Linked DNA regions of Homo sapiens. The main gene of each other region encodes a partner of the protein of the gene in region 2 in a complex. Each region holds a gene or a part of one and is shown on either strand. Other genes may lie near its edges.

Region 1 (7,027 bases), on a different chromosome or scaffold from region 2:
AAATCATGTCAACTGGGCTTCTAAATGATCTACAGCCTTGGGGACACACAGCAAGCAGAGGAAGACTTGGTCAGGAAGTGTTTTGCAAAGATGGCTTTTGCAAGGACACTAAGGGAAGTTGAGACACTTGCCCAAGCTTGCATAGCTACTCAGGGGTGGGGTGAGAATTCACATCCAGCTCTTCTGACTCGCGGTCCTTTGACCCTTCATGACTACTACTCTGCATGGGCTATCACCCTCCTTTAAAAGTTCAGAGACTTAGACAAGAGAAGAGAGATTATAAAAAATAGATTCCTTTTATACCTTTTATACCTCAATTTAAAATTCTCAGAAAGGGTTCTAAACACTTTAAATCCCTTTTACCCAGAAGCTTCTGGTTTTTGCTCAGTCTTGTTAGGAATTGGAGTGGCTGTGATACATCTCTGAGATGCTATGAAATAGAGATGAATTGAAATACTTTCAACATCAGCAAATCATCTGAGGCCCCATAAACACCCTGCACAGTACATTCATGGTACATGCAGGCCTTTGTCTTACTGAAAGACAACCTATGTCATCTGATGTTAGGAGAGTCACTCACTTCAGACCACTGAAAGTTTCAAAAAAAGAGAAAAAAAGTCATAAACCAAGTAAATAATCAGTGTCATTTACCATTATATCTACCATTCCCTTACGAGGCCATGGTCTATGGTCTTCCTTTAAAAGTTCTGTTGTATTCTCTTGAAAAAAAAATAATTTGTTGAACTCTACTTTGTTTTAAGCACTGTATGCAACTGTTTAAGTATAGCATATTGTTTTATCTCTTGTCTTGGACTTGATGCTATTTGTTCAAAGTCCTTTACTTCCTGCCACTGTGCTGTCCAATCCAATGGACACTAGCCACCAAGACCATTTAAAGTTAAATTTGAATTAATTAAAATTAATTACAATTTAAAATCCAGGTCCTCAATAACACTCACCACATTTCAGGTGTTCAGTTACCTCACGTGGCTAGTGGCTACTATATCAGGCAGTGAGCATATAGAACATTTCGGTCATGATAGAAAGTTCTATTGGACAGCATCGCCATAGAGCATCAAATCCAGGACTTCCAGCTAAGATCAGATATGAACAGAACGACCACCAGAATAGGTCAGACTAAGTTCCCAATCTTATCGTTCCTGGGGTTCCAAGAGCTAAACTACAGGTCAGAGAAAAAAAAGCATCTAATCTATTTAGAGGGGTTGACTAGATATCCTGGTATAATCCACGATGCCCATGAAGCAACCAGGATGCTGATTATTCACTGACACTAAATTACAAACACAAAGTCTTAGTGGATTTATTGACAGAGAAAGAAAGAGAGGCCATAGAAAGACAAATAAATAAAGACCTGAATTCAAGCTGCGTGACTTCAGGCAAATTGTGTTACTTCTCTGATCCTAAATTTCATAATCTGCAAAATGAAAAAGTAGATTAACTCTGAGTTTCCTTTCACCTCTGAAATTCCTGGATTCTAAGGCTTTATATAGTTTGCATAATACCCAAGGAACTGTGCAGACTGCCAAGATATATAAGACAAGATGCCAAAGACTTTCCCATTAATGAGTAGAGGAAGCTGTCTAGATAGGGCTAAACAATGTAAGACGGGACATTTTAAGTATCATAAAAATGGTATTACCAATGCATCCTACAGAAGCCTCCTCTTTATCTTACCAGAAAAATATGACTGGAGGTAGTGGAAACATTCACTTTTCTTTCATTATCAAAAAATATGGTAACATAGGGTACCCCACCTGGCATATATCGGGTGTTTAATAATTTTTGTTGAAGAATAGTAATAAGATAAAATGATAATAATATTAATTATACTAGCAGGCATGTATTGGAAACCTAATATATACTAGGTTCTATGCAAGACATTTTCCCCAGGCTATCCCATTCTAGCATCAAACAGCTCTATGAAGAAAACATTAAAACATTTTTTATTTTTTTATCACTTTATAGATTAAAAAACTGCAGTGAAAGAAGTTAGGTCACCAAACCACAGCCACACAACTAAACAGTGGCAGAGCTGAGATTTAAAACCAAGACTTCCCAATTCTAGTGCACATGCTTCCTCCATTTCCACCCATTGTCTCCTTAAGAAAACTTTTACTTGTCAATCACCAGAAAGGACCAAAGAAGACTCTCAAACTTTTTAGGAACCCAGCTAATTTCACAAAACTGCCATTTCCTATATATTTTTCCAGACGACAAAACAACAATGTATCTTTCCAGATAGGCCACTCAGCCAAAATATTTTCTAGTCTAGACCAGGTGGCAATTTCAGTGGAGCTGGAATTGAGTTCATGATTGCCTGTTAGTGTTCCAATGTCCTGAGACTTTTGTTAATTAGACACAAGACAAAGGGCATTAAAAAGAAGCCAAGTTAAATTTGCATGGCTGTGGGCAAATGGCAGAAAGAAGTGGGCCTTTGTTTCCTACGGAACTGGGCACCCACTCTATCATCTACAATTATTTTATAATTGGGTTGATATTTTGTAGGATAGAAGCCTGAGTAACCCTGACATCCATATGCCTCCTTATCACTGTCATGAAGTGGAAAGCAAGGGCCAATTATTTGTGTTGCTCGTTTTCCACAATCTTGTTTTCAAAGAGACTTAACATTAAAGTCACTAAACTGTCCAAATTCAAAGTATTTCCACATTCTCTGCAGTGATCACATTCTGTCACCCACACTTCCTAAAAATACCCTGCTTTCCATCACTCACTAGAACCACAGAGGCTATTAGAAGGTAATAAAATCCCTCGAGGGCTTCTCTTTTGCACATTTGCACTTTCCTCTGATCAATTAGATTCAGGGAGATTGGAAGTGGGAAATAAAAGAAATAAAATTCAGGCCACAAATCCTTCTCATAATCCCACAAGTAGCACTGACAAACAACAACTGGCAAGGAAAGAGCTCAACCCTGGAAGACTCTCCTGCTCTAAACTCAATTATTATCCAAAATTCATCATTAAATGATTACTCATAAAATCCTTCTATCTACTTCTCATCAAGAAATATCATCATGGAAATATCAATGATGGTCCTATCTTATCTCAGGGTACATGTCAGTATTAGTATCACTGAGATAAAAACAGATCTGAATATGTTTAGGGTAGACAACATCCTTTGGTCCAGAAAGTTTCTTTCAAATAATCTGATTTACAAAAGACACTCCATTTAAAAATTTTTCAGAAATGGCAAGATCCTTCTCTCAGTGCCTGCCTCCCATCTGAGCCCTTAATTTAGAAATCTGAGGGCTTAAAAGGACCATGCCTTTCATAATGATCTTTTACAAACATTCCTTCCTTTTCTAGTGCGTCTTTGTCTTGTTGTCCCTTGTATATATTCCTCACTCTGCTAACATGTAGTAAACCCAGACGGATTAAGAAAACTAAGGTTCAAAAATGTTAAAGATCAACTGGGCACGGTGGTGCATACCTATACTCCCAGCTACTCAGAAGGCTAAAGCAGGAGGTTCACTTGAGCCCAAGAGTTCAAGACCAGTCTGGCCAATACAATGAGACCCCATCTCAAAAAAAAAAAAAAAAAAAAAAAAAAGCCAAAGATTATTTTTCACGACGGGGATTTCGGCGAGAAACATCGACACCCTCAGCGTTGACCAGATGGGCAGTCCTGCACTGACAAACCCACTGAGTTAATGTAGAATATGTCAGCTAGCTCAATGCTAAGAGACCAGTAATATCTGTGGCCCAGTCTCTTCCAGAGAAGAAATCAAGCCACTCCTCTCTCTGGCAAGTATGTCTCCTCTCATAAAACAGGCTGACTTCAGAAGTAGCTTTCAAAGACAATGCTTAGATCAAGCCAATCAGCGTAAGTACTCTTCCTGGTTGGGTGATAGCTCTCACTGTGACTTCATATAAGAAAAGCCAGTGGTCTTGTCTTGCTCTTCAAGAATGGAGCAGTCACGGCTGGGCACTGTGGCTCACCCCTGTAATCTCAGCAGTATGGGAGGCTGAGGCGGAAGGATGGCTTGAGCCTAGGAATTCAAGACCACCCTGGGCAACATAGTGAGACCCCATCTCTAGAAAAAACAAAAAAATTATACAGGCATCATGGCACCCACCTGTAGTCCCAGCTACTTGGGAGGCTGAGGTGGGAGGATAGCTTGAGCCTAGGAGTTCAAGGTTAAAGTGAGCTATGATTGCACCACTGCACTCCAGCCTGGTCAACAGAGCAATACCCTGACTTTATTTAAAAAAAAAAAAAATAGAATGGAGCAATCTTAACCCTAAAATAACAACCTTTTGCCAGTACCACCATATGATACCATATGTGAAAGATTTATTCAGGTACCTGAGCTTCACAAGTAACAAGGCTGGCATCTATTCTCTTCTCCAAAAGGCATTGTTTCCTCCTTTACAACTAAATAAACAGTGCAAATTATGTCCTCAACTTTAAGTCAGGTTTGAAAAGAAAAAATAAAAACAAACGAATGCAAAGCAAGAGACTATATAAGGATGAAGGGACAGCACAGGAGAATGGAGGAGAGAATGGGCATAGGAGAAAGGTGAGGGGAAGGGGGAGAGGGGTGAGGAACAGTGAACTTGGTAAGTCTGCTATTTCCAAAACCATGTTTACTGCAGTAAGATAATGAATGAGGAAAACATTTTCATTTTCTTTTCTGACAGCTTGAGCATAAATGATAGCTGCAATAATATCAGAAATTATTGGGCATTTTGAGGAGTCTTGCTAGTGAGAAGCCAGCATTCCAGCCAATTTGAAGCTCTGGCCCCAAGGTGACCTAGAAATTTTGTTTTTCAAATGCAGGAATGTCAGCTGCTGGACTGAAAGTGATGTATACTGTCTAGTGGACAGCATGCTGGCCAGACACCAAATTTGGAGTGTCTCTCCCTGTACTCAGTTGTTCTTTACGGCCAGTGCTGCCCCCACAAAGGAGAGTTTTGTCTAAAGCCGACCAAAAACGGGGGTAGTGTTTAAGATCCATCAACACCAAATAACACTGAGTTTTGACTTGTCACCTCTACAGATTCTTCAAGAAGCTGATCTGAATCCAACACCTCTTGGAGTTAGTTGGGTCTCTTCTTCCTAAGGCAGTTGATTACTACTAGTTCTAATCTAGTTAGGGGCCTGACTGAAGGAGGCCTAAAAAGTGCCAGGAATAAAAGCAGTCAAGCCTCATAATTTTATGTGTTTTTAAACAAGACACCCTCAAGTACATAAAACACCACAGCCATTGTAATTTAATCATCTGCTTATGAAAAAGACAGCACTCTAAACAGAAGAACTGATAAGGCAAATAATTTGCCTATAAGGATTTTTAAAATGTGTCTCTGACATCAAATGAACTCTACTGAGATTCCCTGTATTATGCCAAAAACCTACTGGCCAACATCCAAGACTGACTTGCAAGTACCAACCCTAATCCGGATCATGAAGCAACATTACCATCACCTGTACCCTTCAATAGGGTGATATCCACTCTACCTTAACAATCAGAGTTTTATCCGCTGTACATTTTTTCCATAAGATTCCTATGGACTTCTCCATGGAAAACAGATCCCTGGAATCTTTCTGTGATTTGGAGGAACTCCTGTAATTTGTATGAGGATAGTGATAACGAGAGAAACATCAAACACACACAAGAAATTTACACATCCCAGCTTTTCTGTGTATTCCACTTTGGAAACCAATAGCCTATGAAGATAAAATGGAAACAGCACATACATATCTTGAGTGTGTGTAAATCATCAGAGTCATATGCAATAAGTAAACAGGAGGTGTCATGAGGAGGGAAAACACCACGAATATTCCCAGTTCAGAACACACTTTCAAGAACGATGCTTCAATAGTGAAGTAGAAGGGGAAATGGGCATGAGTCAATAGAACAGCAATTTCTCTATCCTTTCTCTCCACTGTTACTAAGCAATGTCCTATTGGAACTGAACTTTTTTTCTAAGTCTTCGATTGACTTCCTAATTAATAAGCATTGTAATCTAGTGTTTATTCCTTTATGAAGGCAGAGCAGTTGAAATATCCTAACACACATATTCAACCAACACCCCTCTCCAATTATTGTGTTGTTCTTCACATTGAAATTTGGCCTCTACTGAGAAGATATTGAATGGAAAGCCCATATAAGATAGAAAAAATAGAAGCATAATGGACACACGAAATATGTGATGTCACGATCTATGTCTACACACAGATAAAGACCATTTGACCTGATAACTAGCAAATGATAAGCAAGGACGCTGTGTCTCTTTATACATTATCTGATATTATTTATATATTGTTATTTCTATCACAAAGAAAAACAAAAAACATATGCTCAGAGAATACAAGAATAGACAGACAATCCATAGGTAAGCATTAAGAGTAAAATGTACTGAAAGGAGTTACTTTTTCCAATAATGCCTTATCAAGAAAATCTTTCTTTGACAAGTAAGTTATATGTGGTCACTAATAATAAGCAAAAAGCTAATAAAAGAAGGGAAAAATGAGTAGCACAAGCAGTTCCCAGCTTAATCAACAAAATAATCATGCTTTAAAAAATGAGGTAGTACATTCTCTTCCTGAAATCATTACAGTCTGTTAACTTAAAAGTAAAATTAATGGCGATTCGATGCTATACAACACTGTGTAGAGTAAACCCAAAATTACCAATATGAGGCTCAGGTACACTAAACAGTCAAATAACTATTTCTGAAAGCCCTGTCTTCTTATTTTTTCTTTTTTTGTTCTCATAATAACTGACTGAATGACACACACTAGTTGCTGCATATTTAGTTTATTTCTAATGAAGATAACTATTAGGTGTCCAATCTACTCAGTCCTTAATCTTTTAAAGGGAAACAGAGAGGGAATACAATTGTTTAGCCTAACGGAAATAGCTTACTACTATAATTTTCCAACCAAAAGTCTAACTCTTCACATTGTATACACCCATAAGATAGAATTCAAAATTCTCACAGCTTGCATATTACAATACTCAGAGTCTTACCAAACACAAAATAT
Region 2 (7,148 bases):
TTCTAGATTTAGAGAAAGGGCTCAGGGAGGTTGAAAAAAATTGTCAAGAGTCACATGATTAGAAAATGGTAGAACCAGTTAGAGCTGAGTCTCTCAATGGCCAATCCAGTGCCCTTTCACCACATCCTGTAGTCTTAATCCTTGCTTATTTAAATGATTTAAAGCTGTATTTAAATATTTTTTAAAACTCAACCTATACTGCTCACATAAAATATGATTTCAGTAGTTTGTGACCTTTATTTTATTTAAAGATATGTTAATGTCACATCTTCCTCTTTATAATAGTGATAAATCAATCATATAAAGACAACTAATAACCCATATGCCCATTACATACTGCTTTTTCATCAGTGCAAATTTGGTTGTTCTAAAGCAATTAGATTGACTTTTCAGGCTGTGTTGAAAAACTCCTTGGGCTTTTCCACCCATGGTCATAGGTCATGTACCCATAGTTCTATTAAAATACAATAAAGCTCCTACACAGTATATATGTTCATTTAGACAACTTAGCTCTTAATTTTGAGGCATGCATAGGGATATTTATCTCTATCTACAAAGCATGCTTATATAATTGGGGGAGGGAGATAATCATCCCCGCCCCACTTCCTGTCTTATCTTATAAAATGATTTTCCTTTGTGTCGATTGTTTGTTCTATTCTTATTACATATGACCGTTAGCATATTGCATTTATTTTTTTCCACTTGCCTTTCCTGCTAAGGAGAGAATATTTGTATTCTTAGTGCTTCCATTCACTACTCCCTCTACTTAAGGTAAGTTTCTTCCCATCTTACACTTACCTGGTTCACTACTACTTACTACCTAGGCAGTTACTCCTCATTCTTGGGGTTTCAGCTCAATTGTCACCTCCTCATAGTCTTTCTTTCCTTTATCTCTTTATATATGTTCTCTGCTCCTGTACCTTGCACCCTTTATCACTTCACAGTGTTTATTTCTTCGTGGTACTTATCACAACATGCTATTGTCTTATTTATTTGTTTGCATTTTTATCTCTAGCTCTCTCTCTCTACCCACTTGGCTGTAAGAGCCACGTAGACAGAAGATGTGCCTATTTCGTCCCAGTACCAAGCACAATGCCTGATACATAGTAGAGGCTCAATGAACATTGGTTGAATGAATGAATATGTCTTATGCAAGATGGTGTAGAATTTTGTTGTCTGCTTTGAGGAGTGTGTGTGTGTCTGTGAGTGTGTGTGTCAAACCTTGATCCCTTAAAAGAATCTCTTTTGGATTATTCTCTTTACTGATAGACACTAACATAGACATAGGATTATCTACCTACTCAGTTACCTTGATTCCAGACCTATTAAATGGACCAGAACTCCTAGAGCATTTGGAACTTTGTGCCTTATCTTGCATGGACCTAGATTTCTTAGCACTCTGGACCGCAATGGACTGTCTTCTAGAGCTTGTACTCTAGGGTAGCCTCTGGCCACGGGTGGCTAGTCAGCACTTGAAATGTGGCTAGTGTGAAGTGCCTTGTGCTGTGAGTGTAAAATACAAATCAGATTTTGAAGACTTAGTGTAAAAAGTGTAAAATATATCATTAATACTTTTACATTGTTTACTTATTGAAATGATAAAAATTTGGATATATTGGGTTACATAAAATTTACTATTAAAATTAATTTCAGTCTTTTTCTTTTTACTATCTTAATATGCTATTTGAACATTTGAAATTATTTATAAGGATCCTACTTCTGGTTCACATTGTATTTCTATTGGGCAGTGCTGTTCTAGATCCAACTAGCTCATCCCAGCTGTTTGGCAATGTAGGTTGAAGGGGATCCATTGAAGGGAATACTATAATTGCAAGAGTCTCTCATATTCTGCATCTTTCTCATTAGATATGCACTTGGGAAAGGATTGGTGCCCTGGGAGACTAGCTCAGGTGCCTCCCCCGTACAACCTCAATGTGAAATCCCGAGGCCCACACACAGTTTGTGTCCCAAGACACAGAAATTTTAAATGTCTTGCCAGTGGTCATATATCTTCCTTTAAAATAAAGCTAGAACCAGAATCCAGGTCTTTTGATTGTGCTTAGTTCATTTGATTACTTACAGAAGGATCTACGAATACAATTATGTCTTCTTTTAAGTTAGATACTAGAGGATTTTAAAGAATTGTTAATAAGTTATATAGGTTTTCTAAAAGGATCAATGAATGAGGAAATTATACTTCGGACTTTAGATGGTTAAGTAAATGGAATACCATAGTTTATACTTTGATACATTAAATAAGCAGAAACTCTTTCTGTTATTATTGCCACCCATACTGTGGCAGAGCACTAAACCGGGATGACCTTTACTTAGCATAGGAGCATACATTGCAAAGAAAAATTTAAACAAAAAGTCGGAAATGAACATGAAATCTACTTGTAAGTAAATATAAATCTAATAACCACTCTTTGCATAACTATAAAAACTCATTTGGAGACCAACCACTGCGGTTTGAAAAACTGGTTGCTGTGTCTTCTTCCAAAAACCCTCATCACTGGTGTGTCAGGCAGACTTCTCTTCTTGGGTGAGGAGATTGATTTTTAAGTTAGCTTCATCATCATGATCTTCCCATTCATTCACTAATTTAGCAACTATTTAGCCAGAGCCTACTATGTGCCAGGTAGTGTTCTGGGTGCTCAAGGTACCTCAGTGACCAATGCAGACAAAGATTTTTGCTCTTTTGGAGCTTACATTCCAGTCCTTAAGTATTTTCTCAATAGGAAGGATGACATGAAATAGTACAGTGAATCTAAGCAGTGCCTGCTTAGAATGCCATGAGGGACATTTTTGTTAGTTGGGAATTAAAGTAAGTTGGATATTTTCTATTTGTGTCTTTCTTGGGGAATTTGAAAATAGAGGTGCATATGGAAAGTGGAGCTAGCTGTGCAAAACACTACTTTTCTGGTACCAGTCTACTTTTGGAGTGTCAGAAGACACTTAAATTCTCTAATAAGCGTCAAAACATCAATTAGATTGTGTTAAGAAATTTACCAATAATTTGGGGGACTTGGCATACTTGCTCAGTTCTTCTTTCTTCTGCTGGGATATCCCAACCTTTAGCTAAATAGAAGTCTTAGTTCTTATCTCTCAATTCCAGGAACTCCCAGTCAGGATGATTTCCCTTCTCACTCAACACAGGCTCCTTCTCATTCTCCCAGAGCTCATGAGTCCTCCCCCTTGCTCTCTCCCTTACACATCTTTACTTGCATACATTTTTACACGTTCCCCTCCATTCTGGCCCCCAAGCAGAGATTCCTTAAATATGACTTTTTTTTCTCTCCTTAAAGCACAGCTGGTAGATTTCTCCATTACTCCCTCAGCTAAGATGAGCCTAGACAAGTATGTTTTAATCATTTCTTTAACTGACAACAAGAAAGATGATTTGATAATTTGCCTAAAATGAGCAGATGCTCAGGAGGACACGTCTCCATCCTATGTCCCTTCTGTCTAATTTCACCTAGAAATGAAAACTACTCCCTTCTCCCTCTTTTCCAGGCAAAAGGCTGATTTAACTAAGCATGCAAGACGCCAACACCCTCCCCCTCAGTACGTCCAAGTTTCCTTCGCTCTGAGCCACCGAATCTCTGCTTCTCCCCCCTCTGCCGCCCACCCTACGCCACCCACGCAGGTTTCCGAGTCATCCGGAACGCGAGTGGGTGCGAGGACTCGGCAGGCTGCCTCCCGCGCCCCCGCCGCCCGCGGGCCGCCTCGGGTTCAGCACTGGACAGCTCCCTCCCCGGCCCCACAAATGGCAGTCGGCTGATTGACAGAGGAGCCGACCAAACAGGGAACAAGACGACTTGCAGCCGCCCTACAAGGGTTTGGTTGCGGCCAAGCTGCCTCTTTAAACTGGCTTTCCTCCCCCGAGGAGGGAGCAGGGAGAGAGGGTGGAGTGTGGTTTGCGGCCAAACCTAAAGGCTGCAATTAACCAGCCGCCCGGCCTTCGCTACTCCGGACAGACGAACGTCTTAAAGGACGTCTTCGCTCCTCGGGAGTCGCGGCTGCGCTCGCGGTGCGGGTCTGGGCGCGCGCCCCGCGCCTCCGGGCGAAGCGGTCGAGGAGGAGCCAGTGCCGGGAGGCGGGAACGACCTGCGGCGGGTGAGACTATGGAGCAGCGTCTTCGGCGGCCGCGGCGGCAGCAGCAGCAGCAGCTTCTGAACGCGCCTCAATGAGAGCGGCGGTGGCGGCAGCCGGGCCGAGAGACGGACTCGGGCTGACTCCAGCCGCTGGGAGCGCGAGGCCATGTAACCCGCTCGGCTCCAGGCTGCGAGGTGCGTAATCCCCAGCCGGCCCCTCGCGCAGCGGGCACGGCCAGCGCTGCCACAGGTGACTTGATTTCTGCGACGGTAGCTTAGCCACCCGGGGCCAATCTCGAAACATTCTTATTTTCAAGTCCTTTGGACTGGGTGCCATCTGGAGAAGGGGGAAGACTCCTCGAAAAAGTCTGACTGTTGAGAAACTGACGATCCAAATTTAAAAAGTGATTCCCCCCCCTCCCGTTCCCTCCTCTTCTCTCTGGGAGGCAGATGGGAGCCATGGCTTACCCCTTACTCCTCTGCCTCCTGCTTGCTCAGCTGGGATTGGGAGCTGTTGGCGCCAGCCGCGACCCCCAAGGACGGCCGGATTCCCCTCGAGAGAGGACCCCGAAGGGGAAGCCGCACGCCCAGCAGCCGGGTCGAGCCTCTGCCTCGGACTCCTCGGCTCCCTGGAGCCGCTCCACCGATGGCACCATCTTGGCGCAGAAACTCGCCGAGGAGGTGCCCATGGACGTGGCCTCTTACCTCTACACCGGGGACTCCCACCAGCTGAAGCGAGCCAACTGCTCCGGCCGCTACGAGTTGGCGGGCCTGCCGGGGAAGTGGCCAGCCCTGGCCAGCGCGCACCCCTCCTTGCACCGGGCGCTGGACACACTGACACACGCCACCAACTTCCTCAACGTGATGCTGCAGAGCAATAAGTCGCGGGAGCAGAACTTGCAGGACGACCTGGATTGGTACCAGGCGCTGGTGTGGAGCCTTCTGGAGGGCGAGCCCAGCATCTCCCGGGCGGCCATCACCTTCAGCACCGATTCGCTGTCCGCACCGGCCCCACAGGTCTTCCTCCAGGCCACGCGCGAGGAGAGCCGCATCCTGCTCCAAGACCTGTCCTCCTCCGCACCCCACCTGGCCAACGCCACTCTGGAGACCGAGTGGTTCCACGGCCTCCGGCGCAAGTGGAGGCCCCACTTACACCGCCGCGGCCCCAATCAGGGGCCCCGGGGCCTGGGCCACAGCTGGCGGCGCAAGGACGGGCTCGGCGGGGACAAGAGCCACTTCAAGTGGTCTCCGCCTTATCTGGAGTGCGAGAACGGGAGTTACAAGCCCGGGTGGCTGGTTACTCTTTCCTCTGCCATCTACGGGTTGCAGCCTAACCTGGTCCCGGAATTCAGGTAGGGAGGGCCGGGGGGCAGGGGGGAAGGCAAAAGCGAAGCTTTCCTTCCGGTCTTGTGGGTGGGTGCACGTGTGAGGAAGGAACCCTTGGCTGTGACGCGAACGCTTCTCACCCTCAGAGTAGAGACCCGGGCTGAGGGACACCCCACGCGGGCGCGGGTGCTTGGGGGCAAGAAGCGCCCCACGCCCGTCAGCTTCCGGCGCTCGGCGAAAGCCATTCATTCTCTCGGACCAGTTTCCCCGCACTGGGCGAGGGACAGGCAGCCCTTGGCAGGACGGAGACACCCCCGCTGCTCTGTGCTTCCCTCCAATTGTCCGGAGAGCAGGGAGGGGCGTTCCCCACCGGGGGGCGATGCGACAACTTGGCGAGCGCCGGGTGTGTCCGCGGAGTGGCAAGCCTCAGATGAGAGGCGAAAAGGGAGCAGGAGGAACAGAGAGTTCCTTGTTTCTGCCACTTTGGGGTAGCCTCTGCCTGCTTCCTACGTGTGCAGTTGGGGGCACCGGTCTGTTGTTAGTCAGAGCTTATAATTAAAACTGTGCCATCTCCTCGCAGTTCCGGCCCCTCAGCAGTGAGTCAGTCCCAGCAGCTAGCTGTCTCTGGGATCCAGACTTTGCAGCTTGGTCAGGGTGCTCCTTCTACCGGTCTCCCCTCTCCCCGCAATTGATCTTTCCTTCCTCGGTGGCCTTTTCCTCCTCTTCCCTGTCTTAGGCATACTTAAGGGTTCTCCAGCCCTTCACACACTCACATGATTTATAAAAGGACCTAGTTATATTCGGGAGGGAGGCATCAGTTGTGACTGAATTCACTCAAGGAGGCTGGAGGAAACTTAAGGGAGTCTGTACTTCCTGTCTCAAACTATAGCATTTGAGGGAAGCAGAGAATTTGCAAATTAACAGGTTTTAACTTCTGCCTGGGAAGTGCCTGACCTTTGAGGCGGGGAATTTCTAGAAGCAACCTTTAAGAGTAGATGTGAGGAAGGAACTGAAAGAGTAGTTACACCAAAGAGGGCTTAGGAGAGGGCCCAAGATGAACTGAGATCTTCCCTTAGTCCCATGAGGGAAGGCTCTGGAAAGAGGGTCTTGGGGGCTGAGGTTGCTTTTGTACTTTTTGGGAACCTGGGCAGGACTGAGAAACCTTTGTGTGTGGATTATTTATTATTTTTTAAATACCCTGTCACAGCAAGGTCAGGATGCTGACCTGCTGAAAGATGCCAGATCAAGTACTGGGTGGGCAAGTGGGAAAGGTCAGAAGGCTTGTTTGTCTTGGTACTGCCATTTACTGCTGAATGACCTCAACCAAGTTGCTTAACCTCTCTGGGCCTCAGCTACTTATCTGTCCAGTGAGGGAGTTGAACTAGACAGTCTCTAGGGAGCCATCCAGTTATCAAGTTTTGTAGCTTTTAATGTTGGCAACACTTGCAAAGGCATAAAGGATAATAAACCCCTTTGTCTGATTCTGTATGACCATATTAAGTGCATGTGTGTGTGTCTTTGCCTGTGTTTCTATCTCTTTTAAAGGTCTTGTCTTAAACCAGACTAACTCTTTTCTACTTTCAAGATAATCTCATTTCCTCCTAATTCCTGCAGGATCCTATTAGTAAGAGCTGAGCCCAGCTTTGAATCTTTGCCATACTGTTTGCTCAGAAGAGGAAAGACCAGCAGATGCTATTCACTGCCAGCAAACTGTAGCCTTTAAATGAG

What was found. Proteins that work in one complex are often made in the same cells at the same time.
Region 1: the proteins of GPR158 (region 2) and RGS7 are in contact, whole or in part, in a cryo-EM structure (PDB 7SHF), measured with the Homo sapiens proteins. Residues at the interface, in NP_065803.2 of Homo sapiens: Leu507, Lys508, Phe510, Leu511, Arg513, Thr514, Tyr595, Tyr598, Ala599, Thr602, Val603, Pro604, Ile714, Arg715, Leu718, Lys719, Tyr722, Leu725, Glu726, Tyr728, Lys729, Arg730, Met733, Ile734, Thr735, Asn736, Asn737; in NP_001351815.1 of Homo sapiens: Gln35, Ile43, Ser55, Arg109, Phe110, Thr112, Pro113, Tyr114, Phe115, Lys134, Thr136, Lys140, Ala141, Arg142, Leu143, Leu145, Ala146, Asp147, Ala150, Leu153, Gln157, Trp164, Phe168, Met169, Gln170, Glu172, Ala173, Gln174, Lys176, Val177.

What each region holds. Positions count from the first base shown.
Region 1 is NC_000001.11:241,347,179-241,354,205, forward strand, and holds part of RGS7 (regulator of G-protein signaling 7), read right to left. Parts: intron 1-7,027. UniProt on the Homo sapiens protein: GTPase activator component of the RGS7-GNB5 complex that regulates G protein-coupled receptor signaling cascades.
Region 2 is NC_000010.11:25,170,877-25,178,024, forward strand, and holds the start of GPR158 (metabotropic glycine receptor precursor), read left to right. Parts: upstream 1-4,124; 5' UTR 4,125-4,544; coding exon 4,545-5,446; intron 5,447-7,148. UniProt on the Homo sapiens protein: Metabotropic receptor for glycine that controls synapse formation and function in the brain. Acts as an atypical G-protein coupled receptor that recruits and regulates the RGS7-GNB5 complex instead of activating G proteins.